Linked DNA regions of Homo sapiens: region 2 is linked to region 1. A link means that fine-mapping ties the variant in region 1 to the plasma level of a protein whose gene starts in the linked region. Region 1 holds a variant in brackets. A gene starts in the other region. All regions are shown on their reverse strands.

Region 1 (5,839 bases):
CCCTCCCTACAAAAAAATACAAAAGTTAACCAGGCATGGTGGTGCACACCTGTGGTCCTAGCTACTTGGAAGCTGAGGTGAGAGGATTGTTTGAGCCTGGGAGGTCAACGCTGCAGTGAGCTATGATCATACCACTGCACTCCAGCCTGGGTGATAGAGCAAGATCCTGTCTCGAAACAGCAAAAGAAAATAAAACATGCTAGATGATGCTAGATGCTCCCTGGAACATATTACTGTCTTTTTCAGGGTCTGGTCTCCCTATCCCTGTGCCCAAACACACACTGACAGATACAAGCCTGGAGTCCACACCAGTCAACTCCAGGGAGCCTGTGAAGTTGTTATTTTGCTGGTTAATTGATGGGAGTGGGTTACAACTCTGGAAGAGTAGGCAAAAGGTCTCACTAGGTAGGTCAGATTTCTAGGCCTGAAACCTGCTATGTAATTTGCAAAGTCCACAACAAAATGCAAATCAGGGATACCTTGTTCACAAACTTAAAATTTCATGATGACCACGGCAGAGCTTTAAACCAAGCACAGGGTCCCTCCAAGTGCAGGGCTCTGTGTGTGGGGGGCACCGGTCACAGGCCCACAAGGCCACCCTGCCTGAGTTCCAACCCCTCAGGGTCAGGATGGGCCCTGGGGACTTACTTGTTTTACAAGTATTTCCAAGGGTTCTGATGCAGGTGACCCTCAGCTGTCTTTGAAGAAAGGCTTCTTCAGCATCAAGTCAATGTTCCAACTCTCCCTTGAGCAAGGATGGTACAAAAGAAGGCATCCTTGATTTCCGCAGAATCGGGCACAGCCCAGACTCTGGTCACAGACGCCCACAGCTATGACTCAATCCGACTATATTTGGACTGAGGAAATCTTTCCTCATCAGGTCACAAATAAAAGAATTACCGTACAGAATGGAAACACCTAAATCAGGGTTCTCGAGGGAAGGATGTGAAAGAAAACAAAAGGCCAGTGTCCTTGGTAGGTTGGTGGGTCTGGGCTAAAAGCATGAGACTGCCTTGGTATGAATCACAACCGTATATAGGGCTGGAAAGGCACTTACATGATTCAAAGTTTCCACACGAGACTTAAGAAAAAAATGAGAAACATCTGTTGGAGCAGTAAACAGCTGTCCCCCGGAGTTTCACAGCTCTGAGAGGATGCCGCCAAGGTGGGGCTCCTCCCCACACCTGCGGCTTCCAGGTTCTCGTGACAATCCCTGCACAAACCCAGGGCGCGCATGATGATAGCAGGTTCCTTCCAAACAGGAAAAGAAGTCGTAACTGAAAACCCTCACTTCTTCCATCCCTGCAGAAAGCCAAGCCTCTTCACCACAGGAGACTGTTTTGTTTCCTTCTTGAGACAGCAGGAAGTGGGAGACTTGGAAAATCTATTGTCAACTGATATACGATGCACGCGGACATGCAGAAGATGGGAGTGAAGTTGCTGCTTCAGATCAGTCACAGTACTTGCGTCTCAGTCACAGAAATTCCATGAGGGTGGGCTGCTATATTCCCACTATTTATGTGGCGTTACCAGAGGCAACTTCCAAAATCCACGAGGAAGCAAAACTGTGGGATGGCTCATTCTCAGAAACATAGATGGACTTTGGAGAACTTGTCTATGCATTTTTTT[T/G]GTTTGTTTGAGAAGACCCATTATGGCTTTCTTGTTTATATCAATATAGGAAGGAAGCTGTCAAAAGTACACATGAATCACAGCTCTCCAGATGCCTGGTTCAAATTTCAAAGATGACTTTATCTTCTGCAAACTTGTTTTGCCTTCCTGGTGGCCTTTCTTGCTCTATTTTATCTTGTTTTGTTTTTTAAGCACGAGAGCATTCCTTTACCTTAAGTCCCACAGGGTGCTGATATAGCATCCCCTGAAGGTGGGCTTCTTCTCCATTCAGGTGGGGATGCACAGCTACAGCCTCCAAAGGGGGTGGATGGGGGTGGTCAGTTTGCCAGCCACGCCAGATGACATCTCTCGCCACTAGGGGCCTCCCTAAGAGAAGTGATCAGCGTTCTTTCTGGACATTAAAACTCAGCTTGTTTCCTCGATGTATGGCCTCCAGGGGCGTGTCAAGCATTTGATGACCCACAGCAGCCCCAGACTGTGTGAGGCTGGGCAGATGCAGAGCTGTTAGGGGAAACGTTCCTTCGTTGACAATTTCTGGACCTGATCATGACAACCTGGGGCTAAGACACGACCTGACCAGTGATGATGTTACCACCTTCAGCTTCCATCTGGGAGCCAGGAAAGCACAAAGTGGGACCTTTGGTTCTAGGCTGTGCAGCCCTCCCCTTCCCAGCCCTCATCTCTCTCCTGGTGCCCCTCACTGCCTAGACACAGACCCATCAAGATCAGAAGCAGGAGGTTGAGCTGATGCAAGAATATGCAGCATGGTGTCAGCTGATGTGGTTTCGAACATCACAGAGACAACGTCCCTAGAGGTTGCTGGAGTGGGTTGTGAGAAGACCATCCAGTGTGGAACTGGAGCTCATTGTGCACATGACACCTCTCAACTCTCTTGCTCCTCTCCTTAACTCTTGGTTACTTGGTTTGCAATAGGGAAGGACTGGATTGCTGAGAAGCATTGGCATATTGTTCCCAGTTGAATATCCAGGAGTTACTTTGAGCTTCTAGAACTGAAAGTGTTTCTAAACCAACTCATATTGGAATCCTTGTAAGCCCAGGATGTATCTGAGGGTGAACACAAATTGTGCTTATTTTAAAATACATATGTACACATGTATGCATATGTTACAGACATATGCATCTGTGTACACATATGTATGTGTATATTGATATATGCATATATATACACGTATGTATACATGTGCATACACCTGCATATAAATATGTGTGTATATCTCTATTTATGTGCCTGGACATATGCATATGTATACATGTATGTGTGTGCATGCATGTGTATACATATATGTGCATAGACATGCATAGGCATACATATGTACACATGTATAGTGTATAAACATAAGCATGCATATGTATGTTTATATAGACACATGCATATGCGAACATGTGTATGCATGTGTGGTATAAGCATGCATATGCATACATATGTATGCATGTATGTATACAGATGTGGATATGCATACATGAATATACATACATGGTACATAAACATGCATATGCAGCCCAGGCACAGTGGCTCACGCCTGTAATCCCAGCACTTTGGGAGACCGAGGCAGGCAGATCTCCTGAGGTCAGGAGTTTGACACCAGCCTGGCCAACACAGTGAAACCCTGTCTCTACTAAAAATACAAAAATTATCTAGGCGTGGTGGTGAACGCCTGTAATACCAGCTACTTGGGAGGCTGAGGCAGGAGAATCGCTTGAACCCAGGAGGTGGAGGTTGCAGTGAGCCAAGATTGTGCCGCTGCACTCCAGCCTGGGCGACAGAGTGAGACTCCTCTCAAAAAATAAAATAAAATTAAATTAAATTAAAACAAAACATGCATATGCATACACGTCTAGAATATGCATGCACACGTATAACACACATGTATAGACGTATGCACACATATGCATACATGTAAGTATGTATAGAATATTGTGTGTGTGTGTATATATATATAATTCCTCATATTCTTACCTTCAAGCCTCCCCCATAGCTATTCCAAATTTGAGACAATTTACTCTTATTTCCTTAGGTCTATGACTTTGCTTTGATAGAGAGGACTGACTAGAGAAGACCAAACCCAAATTCAGGTCCAGCAACTACCCATGTTGTCCTCAAACTTCAGAATCTTATCTCAAGTGTCTTCACTGACACTGCAGGCATGCTCTGGGAGACTGAGTGTGACCCACAGGTGCCAGCCCCGTGTGCTCTTAACCTTGAAGATACCATCAGCTGCTTCCCACAAGCAGTAAGCATGGCTGTTTCTTTCTGGGCCATGGGGTGTGGTTAGGGAGCAAATCAGTCCTGACTCCAGCTGCATTAACCACGCCATCATACCTCCCCGTGACGATGCTGTGACTTGTATCTGGTTTTCCAATCTGGTTCCTGGGCCTAACCCTGCTGGGCACTAGTTAGGATGGGGTCTCTACGAGCCTGCGCAAAACTCCAGTTAGAGCAAGAGCAGAGCTCTCCCGTCTGAGAAAGGAAGTTAGTACATGAAGGAGCTGGCTCCCACAGGCAGTACCGACAACGTCAAGGAGAGCACAGTCCTTGAAGCACTTCCTGATGACCCCAATTATTCCTAGCAGCCATGGTAATAAACACTCCGGAGCACCTCTCCAATGACGTCTGTGACAACCCTCCAGGGTCACATACTGCTAACTTCCAACCTCAAGGCGGAAACCATCTTCCTGCCTGGCTGCTCCTGCTTAGGGAGAAGGGCTAGGCCTGGAAGGGTCTGCAGCTCTAGGGGGCAGATATTCTGGGGAGAAGCAGGACTTCAGAACACCTCTCAGGCTTCATCCAACAACCCCTAAAAACTGCATTAATGTGCACAGAAGAACCGATGGCCCATAGAAGACCCATGTTCTGGTTTGCTGGGGGAGGCTGGGTGGGAAGGGCAGCTTTGGTAACTACCAGCCACAGGACACTTCTGTACATTTGAGTCACTTCCATGTGACCCTTAGCAAAGACACAAATAGACCCTTTGATGTGTGGGTCCCTCACCAAGAAGCCATGCATTTGTAGGGCGTTGCAGAGGGGACTCTGTGCTCCTTCCGCCTCCTTGCCTCCTCCTGCTTCCTCTTCCTTTTGGTGAAAGGAAAACACAGGGAAAAGACAAGGAAAGGCCATGAGGCCTGACATTTCCTGGCTGTCACTGCCAATGAGTGCTTCAGAGTGCAAACAGGGGACATTGAGGAGGTGATGCTGGGAAGTGGAAGCCCAGAGCCATTGCCAAGGTCTGCTTGGTCAAGAACAGGCTGCAGGTCGGATACAGTGGCTCACACCTGTAATCCCAGCACTTTGGGAGACCAAGGCGGGCTGATCACTTGAGGTCAGGAGTTCAAGACCAGCCTGGTCAAGATGGTGAAACCTCACCTATACTAAAGATACAAAAATTAGCTGAGCATGGTGGCATGGGCTCGGGAGGGTGTAGTCCCAGGTACTCGGGAGGGTGAGGCAGCAGAATCGCTTGAACCCAGGAGGCGGAGGTTGCAGTGAGCTGAGATCACACCACTGCACTCCAGCCTGGGTGACAGAGCAAGACTCCATCTCAAAAAAAAAAACAAAAAAAAAAAACAGGCTGCCAAGAGTGTGCTGAGCCCTCTGGAGCTGGGAGAATGTTGGATGTAAGGCCCTTGCTGGACCTGCTGTCCAAAGGGTCTTTCACTCATTTGTTCATTTGTTCCTTCATTGGTTCATCCAGTTTGCATGGACTGAAATGCTGGCTGACTGCAGGCAGTGAGAACTCGGAGCTCAACTCAACAGCTCAGATTCTTGCCCTCAAGAAGCTTCCATTCTAGAGGGTGAGGCTCACAATAAACAAGTTGCAGACACTAGTCAGTCATCTCATCTAACAAAAATACTGGGTAGCTATGTTATTAAATTAAATACATGCAGGAAAAGAAATTGCCCATTATAGGGAATGAGAACCTATATACACCCACCCTAAGCCAAACTGTTAAATATAAATCTGGACTGGGGGTTGGGGGTAGAAAGAGGCTCATCTCAAATGCTTCACCTTTTGGGGTCTGAACCAGCCACTTGCTGGCGGCAACCTCTGCCTCCCGGGTTCAAGCGATTCTGCTGCCTCAGCCTCCCAAGTAGCTGGGACTACAGGCCCATGCCACCATGCTCAGCTAATTTTTGTATCTTTAGTATAGGTGAGGTTTCACCATCTTGGTCAGGCTGGTCTCGAACTCCTGA
Region 2 (9,120 bases), not on the chromosome of region 1:
GTGTCTCCCCAAACACACCTGTCCAGGCCCCAGCTCCTCCCCTCCAAGACCCACTCCTCCCCTCTTCCTGCCTTACACACCTTTCCTGGCAGGAAGAGGACAGCAGTGCCCTGGGTTGCAGGGAAGTTCCAGGCCTCACAGCTGAGCACAGACCAGAGCTGAGCTCCCCCTTGAAGCTCAGGGGCAGTGGGTGGCCCATGAGGGTGGGGCAGGTGTGTTCTCCTCCTCCAGCCCCTCCCTTACCCACCTGTGTACTCCTGTTGCAGGGAGAGGTTCAGGGAAACGTGCTGGGAACCCAGAGAGTTCTGAGCTCGACAGGTGAATTCCCCTTCATCCCCCAGGTGCACTTGCAGCTCCAGTACCAGAGGGTTTGAGGGCTGTGAGGGGTACAGGGTCAGACTCCTCCAGGTCCAGCTCAGCCTGGCAGGGGGATTGCTGTCAACAGCACAGACCAAGCGCAGAGACTGGCCCTCTAGGACTGAAAGAGATGAGCTGTTCCCCAGAGCTGTGGATGCTGTAGAGAAAAAGTTGGAGGTTCAAAGAGACAAAGTGATTGAAACAGGGAGGAAGGATACAGAATGAGACTGGGGAATGGAACAGAGAGTGATGTAGGCTGGTGCAGGGACATACTTATGTTCACCGCTCACTGTTGGGAATGTAAACTTGCCCACCTTTATTTGAGGACAACTTCACCATATCTTTCAAAATCAGAAAGAACATATGACACTGGTAAAATGTGCTTTTAGGAATTTATCCTATACACTTAGATATTCCTTGTGGGAGTAGATACAACATTATTCATTGCAGTGTTCGTGCCGTAGGATAAAATTAGTGCCATGATCTTCCATTAGGAGATGCCACAAAATCAGAGACTATTCAGACAGTGGAATCACACACATCCCTAGAAGAGGGTGCAAACAGTCTCACTGCTGACATCAAACCACCTCTGAGATCTTCCAGGTGCACAAACCAAGGCTCAGGACAGCCTGGACAGACCCTGGTTGATTCTGGGGACACATTTTACTGTGAATTTAAAATTTTTGCCCACGTGATTATAGCATGTATCCAAAAGAACGTAGCTCAAAACTATTGGGTAAAATAAAAAGACGAGTTAGGTGGCATATTCAGGAGATGGAAGATAAGAGGCCCAAAGGCTGCTCCTGCTATATGTATTTCCCCCTGTCCTGGCTGCAGGGCTGAGGAGGGTGTGTGTGCAAGAGTCTGAGGGGAGTGGGGGGAAGAGGACAGGTGCTCAGGTGGCCACAGAGGCTAAGGATGGGGAGGAGGCCTGGGTTCAACTACAAGGGAGTCTCATATCACCAGGGTGAGTCCAGGATGAGGAGGGACCTGGCCCTGCCCTGAGCTGAAGGCCCTGCTCCCCCAGCCCCAGGGAGGGGGCTCCATCCTACCTGTGCCTTCTCCTTGGAAGACAGTCACAGTCAAGTTCTGAGGAGGGTCTGGGACAGAAAGACATGGAGACCTGCATCACTGTGAGGGCTGGGGACACTGGCCCTGTCTCCCCAGGAGCTGCATAAATGGGGAAGGCGGAGCCAGCGTCCTCCTGATCCCACAACCAGCCCAGATTCTGGGACCCAGCACCCAGTGTCGAGCCCTGACCCCATCCTCTGCCCTCAGGGACGTCCCCCCCTCATCAGGGACCAGGGCGTCCTGGCTCAGCACTCACAGGACACATTGAGTTGGATGGTCCTGTTCGTGGTCACGCCGGCCCCAGGCAAGGTCACCTGACAGGTGAGGCTGGTGCCGTGGTGCTGGGGCTGTGGGATGAGGGTGAGCACTGAGGAGCGGGTGGTGGAGGGGTGCAGGGGGGACACAGAGGTCCCCATCCAGGAGATCATAGGGGGCGTCCCCTGCTCACAGGCCCAGGGCACAGAGCAGGTCAGATTCTGGAAGCAGCCAGACTCCAGGGTACCGGGGATAAGGATGTTGGGCCTGTGGGTCAAGGCTGGTGAAGAGAGGGGGACTCAGGATCAGGACAGAGGATCCATGGTACAGCCCTGGGGGAAGCTCAGGCTCTGGTTCAGCTTCTGCCCTGAGCCCAACTCGCTTCACCCTCAGCCCTCTCCCAGGGCAGGGGCCCCATCCCAGGCTTTCGCTGCCACCCCCATGACCTTTCCCTGTGGTGTCTCCTGGAGCCTGTGCCTTATCTGTCACATTCACAGAGAGCTGCTTCGTTTTGTAATTCCATCTTATCTGTCCTCTCTCCACCTGGAAGTAGTAGTTCCTCAAATCCCCCTTCCTGGCATCTCTGATGCTCAGGGAGCAGTTGTTGGTCTTCAGGTCCCCAAGGAGGTGGAATCGGCCCCGTGTCTCCTGCACTTTTCCATTTGGGATGTTTGTGGCCACTGGATTATTCCATTGTATATTGATCCCTTTCTTAAACCAGCATCCATGGACAGGGCTAGAGTCAGTTCAGTTGTAATAGGGTTAAAGGACACTGCAGGGCACAGAGACGCACTAGCCCTCCTGCACCATCACCAACTCCAGCACCTCCAGCCTGTATCTTGACAGTGGGGCCTGGGACGCTGTGGGGAAATGAGGCTCAGCCCAGCCCCGACTGTCCCTCTCTTCATTTGCCCACAAGAGAGGCAGCAGCATCTCTGAGACAGAGGGTTCCTGGGCTCCTTGTGTGAGCAGAGAAGTGGGAGGGAGAGGAGGGGCAGGGCTGTGGGACCCACAGGGGGCTGGAGAGGGGCTGGAGAGGAGCTGGAGACCTCAACCCAGCACGAAAGAGAAACTACAAACCCACATGCTATAGGAACTGGTTCCCTCTGCACAGAGTGAAGGAAACCCTGAAGCTCAGAGACCCTAGAGACCCACCCAGGGAGGAGAAGAGACCGTGTCCCACCTCCTACCTCCGGGCTTCCCTGGAGCACCAGGGCCTGCACCAGACACGTAGGTCCTGCCCTCCCGGCCTCTGGACCATCGTGGAGGTCCCTCCTGTCTTTTGAGCATCTAAATGTGGATCTCCGAGGACCTCAGGGCATGAGAGATGGAGGGGCCGTGTGCTGAGTCTCCCTGTCCAGGCTCAGGTGCCTCTGCTGCCCTTGGTTTGCGCCAGGAAGTGCTTCCTCCCTGGCCTGGCCTGAGAGAGTCACGGGGTTGTGTAGACCTAAGGCTCTCAACTGGGGAGGACTTAACCCCCCAGGACGTTTAACAATGTGTGGAGATAATTGTTATTGTCTCACTGCATGGGTGGAGTGGGTGCTTCTGGCATCTGGTGGGGAGAGGCCTGGGATGGTGCTAAACCCCGGCCATGCCTAGGACAGGCCCCAAAACAAGGAGTCATAAGGCCCCACATGCCACAATGCCAGCGTCAGAGGCAGGATGAGGATGTCAGGCCTGTGGGTCAGGGCTGGTGAGGGGAGGGGCCTGCAGGATCAGGAGGGGCATCCAAGGTGCGGTCCTGGGGAAGCTCAGGCTCTGGTCCAGCTCCTCTCCTGAGTCCATCACCCCCGGCCCCCTCCCAGGACATGTGTCCCGTCTCAGCCGTGCCCTAAAGCCCTCATCACATTTGCCTTTGGCCTCTCTTGGAGCCCGTGCCTTACCTGTCACGTTCACAGAGAGCTGGTCATATTTATAATTCCATTTTATATTTCCTTTCTCCATACGAAAGAAGTATCTCCCCGCATCACTCATTCTGGCATCTCTGATGCTCAGGGTGCAATTTTTGGTCTGTGGGTCCCCAAGGAGGTGGAATCGGTCCCGAGTTTCCTCCTGCACTGCCCAAGCTGGGTTGTTTGTGGCCACTGGAGCCTTCCAGCTTATATCATTCCCTGCCCGGAACCAGTAGCCATGAACTGGGTCAGAGTCAGTCTGGCTGTCCACTGGGTAGGAGAAGGAGCAGCGCACATGGACACACATGCCCTCTTGCACGGTCACGGAACTCTGCATCGTCAGCGAGTAATCCTTCCGGTTACTCTTCTGTCCTTCCACCCTCTCCCTCCCCCAGAGCAGGGGCAGCAGCAGCAGCAGCAGCATATCTGGGGTTGGAGGTGCCAGGGCCGCGAGGGAACGTCTGTTCCTCAGGGTTCTTCTCTCAGGAACTGCGGGCTCAAGACTTAGAAGAGGCCCTACAGGAAGTCGGTGGTGAGGTCAAAACAGTGACCTCCTTAGAAGAAGAACTTCACACACAGACACTGTCAGGGCTGGGTCAGCCCTGGGAGATCCACCGTCCACCACCCGACATTCACTCCTGGGTCCCTGAGGCCAGAGCGGGAGACAGACTCACCCAGATTCCCACCCCATGCAGGGCCCACCCCACCTCCTGCCTCCCTCTCAATGCCTTTCCCTTTAGGTGATATTTTCTGCAGGGTGAAAATAACTCCCATCTGCCCAGACCCCTGAGTCACAGGCTGTGGATGTCTGCGTAGCTCAGAAGTGGGACTCGGGGCCATGAGAGACAGGGGTGCAGGTGGGGTGAACAGGCAGCCTCTCATCCCTCCCTCAGCAGCCACGAGGTGGGCACCCCCTTTCTGCACAATGAGGTCAACACAGCAGAGCCGGACACTGTCCCCAAGGAGTCACTGTGTGGTGGGGAGACACTGAGTCTCCTGACGTTTGAGCTCCCCATGACAGGAGCTTCAGTGGGGGGCACAGGCAGGGTGGGGTCACTCTCCCCTAGGTCGGGGGTTCAGTCTCAGGAGGACCGAGCAGACGGACATGGGGCTGTGAAGGTGAGGATTGCGCCTGTTGATACACGCCAAGGACACGGAGGGGAGCCCAGCCTGCAGGAGGCCGGGGAAGCTGAGGCTGTGATTGTTGTATTGTGGGGCTTGGTAGACAGGAAAGTCATAAGGGAAAGGATCAATATGAAAAGAGCAGACACTATTCCCATCCTCACAGCTCTCTGAGCACAAGGACATTTCCCTTCACCACTGCTATCTCATGAGGCCTGGTTAGTGCAGAGTGTGAGGGGTCTGCTGGCCCTGGGGCTTTGCTCCTGCAGGAACTGCTCCTAGGGGTTCAGGTGAACAGGAGACGTGGAGCAAAGACACCAGCCCCGGGGCGTCCACCCTCAGTGATGGGCGCGATTTTCTGAGAGAAGAAACACGCACCTGACTTCAACAGAAGATTATTTTAAACTGTGTGACTGGGCTGGGAGGAAGTGGGAAAAATCCTGCAAGCTGCAGCCCCCTTAGATCCAGGCCAGCTTTTCTTGAAACAGTTTTTTTTGAGCGGGGAGAAACACAAGACATGTACATAAAAGTGTCCCCTAAAAACCAACTCAGTGATTCACACAAAATAAGCACCCTTGAAGAACTAGAACACAAAAGAACTGTCAAGTCTGTCCCTTGAAATGAAGAAAGAGATTTTATTAATTCATTCACCCTTACATTCCCCTTTCCTATTGGCCATGCCCCCGCTCCCTCCTGAAGGAGCCCCTAGCCTCACTTTAATGATAATAGTCTTCCTGCTGTTCTATGTAGTTTTATCATCGGCACATGCTGCCTTGAAAATTCTAACTTCACGTAGGTTTTCCTGAAGATGTTGTATACATAGAAAATCCCAGTCTGTTTTCTTCCATACAACTGCATTGATCTGCTCAGCCCACACTGTCCCCTAATTGTCCATAACCTAGAGATCATTTGGCTGTAACGATTGAGAGAGGAAGATGCTGGGTTTGGGCGTCCGAAGCCACTCCCCGCCCTCACCTCCAATCCCTGCATTTGCAGCTAGTATCTCATCCTGCAGACCAATCTGCCTCCTGGGCGCCTCCTCCTTGCCCAGCCACTCTCTCCCCATAAGGATATTTGCAGTATCTCAGTGGGCAGAAGTGTTACCGGATGGTGCCATGCAGTTCCAGGCTCTTGGTGTCTTAAACAAAGAATTGGATGAGACACACACAGACAGCAAAGCAAGAAGCAGCAGTTTATTAAGCACAGTATCACACTCTTGGAGAGGGAGAGCGAACTGATCTCTATGAGGTGAGATCAGCATTACTTTGGGTCTTTTTATGTTTGTTTGTTTGTTTTTTTGTTTTTCTTCGCTTCCCAAGGCTGCCAAATCTCTATCCAGTGTCTGCCTTTTTTCGGGGGGAAGGGGTGGTGGTGAGGTGGGGACGAAGTCACCCAAGCTTGAGTGCAGTGGCACAATCTTGGCTCACTGCAACCTCAACCTTTTGGGTTGAAGCGATTCTTCTGCCTCTGCCTCCCTGGTAGCTGGGACTACAGGCGCCCGCCACCATGCCTGGCTAATTTTTGTATTTTTAGTAGAGATGGGGTTTCACCAGGTTGGCCAGGCTGGTCCTGAATTCCTGACCTCAAGTGATCCGCCCACCTTGGCCTCCCAAAGTGCTGGGATTACAGGCGTGAGCCACCGCGCCTGGCCAGTGCCTGCCTTTTTGATGGTTAAGTATGTTGCTTAGTTACTTTGACCCATCCCATAATTTTAAGTACATGGATAATATGCAGTCCATATGCATGAACTTTAATGAGCTGATTATCATACAGGGTCATGTTAAGGATACTTTTTCTCTCTAATGCACATGCATAGCTCTGAAGAACTGCCCCTTACTGGTTTGGTCCAGATCCTGCTGGCCACGGGTGTCCTTGCTCACTTCTCTATCTTACTTTTTGTTTTGGCTGCTCAACTTCTGCCTCTTGCTTCTTGCTCACCCGTCCCCTCACCTTGCTTCTGCTCTCTGCTTTTACTTATTCTGCCCTTTATCCAACTTTTAATTCTCTTTGCTATGCTCCTGCCCCATTGGTCTATGCTCCTCCTGCCTCAGAAGGGCTAGACCATGGCCCATCTCTTTCCCACAGTCCCCAGTTTGCAATTAAAATCAGAAAAAAAAATGGGAAGGAGAGACTTAAGGAAGCCACAGAATCTGTAGAAAGGAGGAACTTGTGAACCACATATGACCCAGGGGAGCTGACAAGCCCTCTACTCCCACTTCCACAGTTCGGAGAGGAAGACATCAAGGTCCACAGTGACAAGTGCTATGGTCTGAATATGTCACCTCAAAATTCATTTGTTGAAATTTGAATCCCCATGTGATAGTATTAGAAGGTATAATGATTTGGGAGGCGATTAGGCTATGAGGACTCTGGGATTAGTCTAATGGGATTAGTCCCCTCATCTGAGAGACCCAGGGGAATTTGCACAGCCCTTCCACCACATGAGAACATAAGGAAAAGGCACCATCTATGAGGAAGCAAACTGTCTCCAGACACCAAACCTGCTGGCACCTTGGTCTTGGACTTCTCAGCCTCCAGAACTGTGAGAAATGAATTTCTGTTGTTTATAAACTGGCCAGTTTATGGTATTTTGTTGTAGCAGCATGAATGGACAGAGATAGAAAGCGAATTGCCCAAATCACACAGGTCTCCTGGGCCCTGTCTCCTGCACCAATGTCTGCCCAGGAGCCACTTAATTAATCTTGTCTGCCCAGGACAGACTGGGCTGGGACAGGGGAAGCTGATGTTACTTGGAGAGTGAAAGAACTGTCAAGTCTCTCACATGAGATAAGGAAAGACATTTCATTCATTCATTCATTCATTCATTCATTCGTTCTGTATTCAGATTGTGAGCACCCGTGCTGTGCCTTGAGATTTCCAGCAAAGGGTAAGTGTTTGCCCAATCGCTCCCTCCCAGGAGGGGAAGTTGCAGCATCTCAGTGGTCAGAAGGGCTGAGCCATGGCTGACAGTGATGTCCTGCATCTGTCCCGCAGGGCTGGGTGTCCTCATCTGAGTTCTGTCTTGAGCAGGAGGGGCTCAGTCAGGCCTCTCAGCCCTGCTCCCCTGGGGGCCTCCACACCTGTAGAGCCAACACCGGCCTCAGATTAGCATCGGCCACTTCAATTCTAACTCAGGCGGGACAGGACAGCTCAGCCCCATCTGGAACTCGGGGGCCAATCCCTCGGCTTCCCTAGAAAAGAGCAGCCCTGCTCACCTGGAGTAGTAGCCCCAGGTGAGGCCACGGGTGAAGGAAAAACCAGTGCCCATGAGCGCCCCTTGATTAGGTGAGAACCAGGGGCTGGGAGCCCTCCTGATCTTCACTCGCACATCTGCACCCAGAGGGACTTCCTGGGAGTGGGGAGAAGAGGGTGAGGTTTTGTTCCTAGGTCTAGGCCCCTCTCACAGCCCAACACCTGACCAGGCTGCCTGCCCCAGCACCCGTCCAGCAGCTCCCTCTGCACAGAGAGGCTCAGGGAAATGTGCTGGGAGCCCAGTGGGTGCTGAGCCTCACAGGTGAGGTCGCCTTCACCTCCAGTCCCTTTCTGGGGCAGCTCCAGGATCCCAGTTGCTGAGAGCTGGGAGAGATTCAGTGTTCTTCCCTCCTGAGACCAGCTCAGTGAGGCGGGGGAGTTGCTGTCAGTCACACAGACCAGGCCCAGGGACTGACCCTCCAGGACAGGAAGCGAGGTGCCATTGCTCAGGGTCTTCAGGGTTGAGTGAGGAAAACAGTGAGAGCGGGGAGGGTGGAGCTGAGAGGCTGTCTCTCCCACAACCCCACAAAAACAGAAAGAGGAGACACCTGACTGTGTGACACATACTCACGAATGCAAATCCAGGAGTTCAAAAAGCTGAAAGACCCCGCAGGGAAAGAGGCTGAGCTGAGACTAGTGGGGGAGTTGGTCATATTAACAGGTGGCTAAGGGCACCTCAGGTGGAGGGGAAAAAGCACAGGCCATGAGACAGCCGGGCAGATGAAGGGCCCTGCAAATATGTGTGGGGTCTTCCAGGGGGAAATTGGAGGTGCTGGGACATGATCAGCTGAACAGCTTGGACTGAGGGTTCCAGGGAACCAGAGAGGGCCCTGAGCAGGGAAGAGGCAGTGTCAGCTCTGGATGCAGGAAAATTTTTCAGGGCTTGTGCTGCGAGGGCCACAGCATGGAGGCGAGAGGCTGCAGACCGGGATGTTGGGTGGGAAATGGAGCAATCGTCAAGACCGAAAAGGGCCTGGCCATGCAGATAGAGGGGAGGAGACAGGGAATGGAGGGAGGAGGAAGGGCATGATGGCAGACATTTTTGGGGAAGTGAAGTTTACAGGAACCCCTGACTCATGCATGGGGTGGTTGAAAACAGGAGGCAACTGGAATAAGTCCTGGGTCCTGACTGGGATAACTGAAGAGTCGGGGGTGGGGGATGGAGGCACCA

Direction of the effects. Alleles are on the strand shown, and positions count from the first base shown. The strength of an association depends on the size of the effect and on how common the allele is.
For the plasma level of the protein whose gene starts at base 4,068 in region 2, T is the high allele of the variant in region 1 and G is the other (moderate association).

What was found. PIP is the chance, under the fine-mapping model, that this variant and not a neighbour inherited with it causes the effect. Protein levels are from antibody-based Olink assays in UK Biobank. Linkage for the fine-mapping came from a reference panel and not from the study's own genotypes, which makes the PIPs less certain.
Region 2: SIGLEC7 starts here. The variant in region 1 is fine-mapped to the plasma level of the SIGLEC7 protein (UK Biobank, PIP 0.96).

What each region holds. Positions count from the first base shown.
Region 1 is chr17:68,395,376-68,401,214 of GRCh38, reverse strand. The region is part of intron 10 of ARSG (arylsulfatase G); the gene reads right to left. Among named protein-coding and RNA genes, the nearest start is that of MIR635, 26 kb to the left of the region's middle. RefSeq lists an enhancer at 2,048-2,407. The variant T/G (reference allele first, on the strand shown) is at 1,630.
Region 2 is chr19:51,137,249-51,146,368 of GRCh38, reverse strand. It overlaps SIGLEC7 (sialic acid binding Ig like lectin 7), which reads right to left and starts at 4,068. Exons shown (of 7, transcript NM_014385.4): 1 at 3,567-4,068; 2 at 1,685-1,963; 3 at 1,410-1,457; 4 at 248-514. The coding sequence starts at 3,999. LOC124904749 (a long non-coding RNA gene) reads left to right here and starts at 5,859. Exons shown (of 3, transcript XR_007067310.1): 1 at 5,859-5,945; 2 at 7,543-7,584.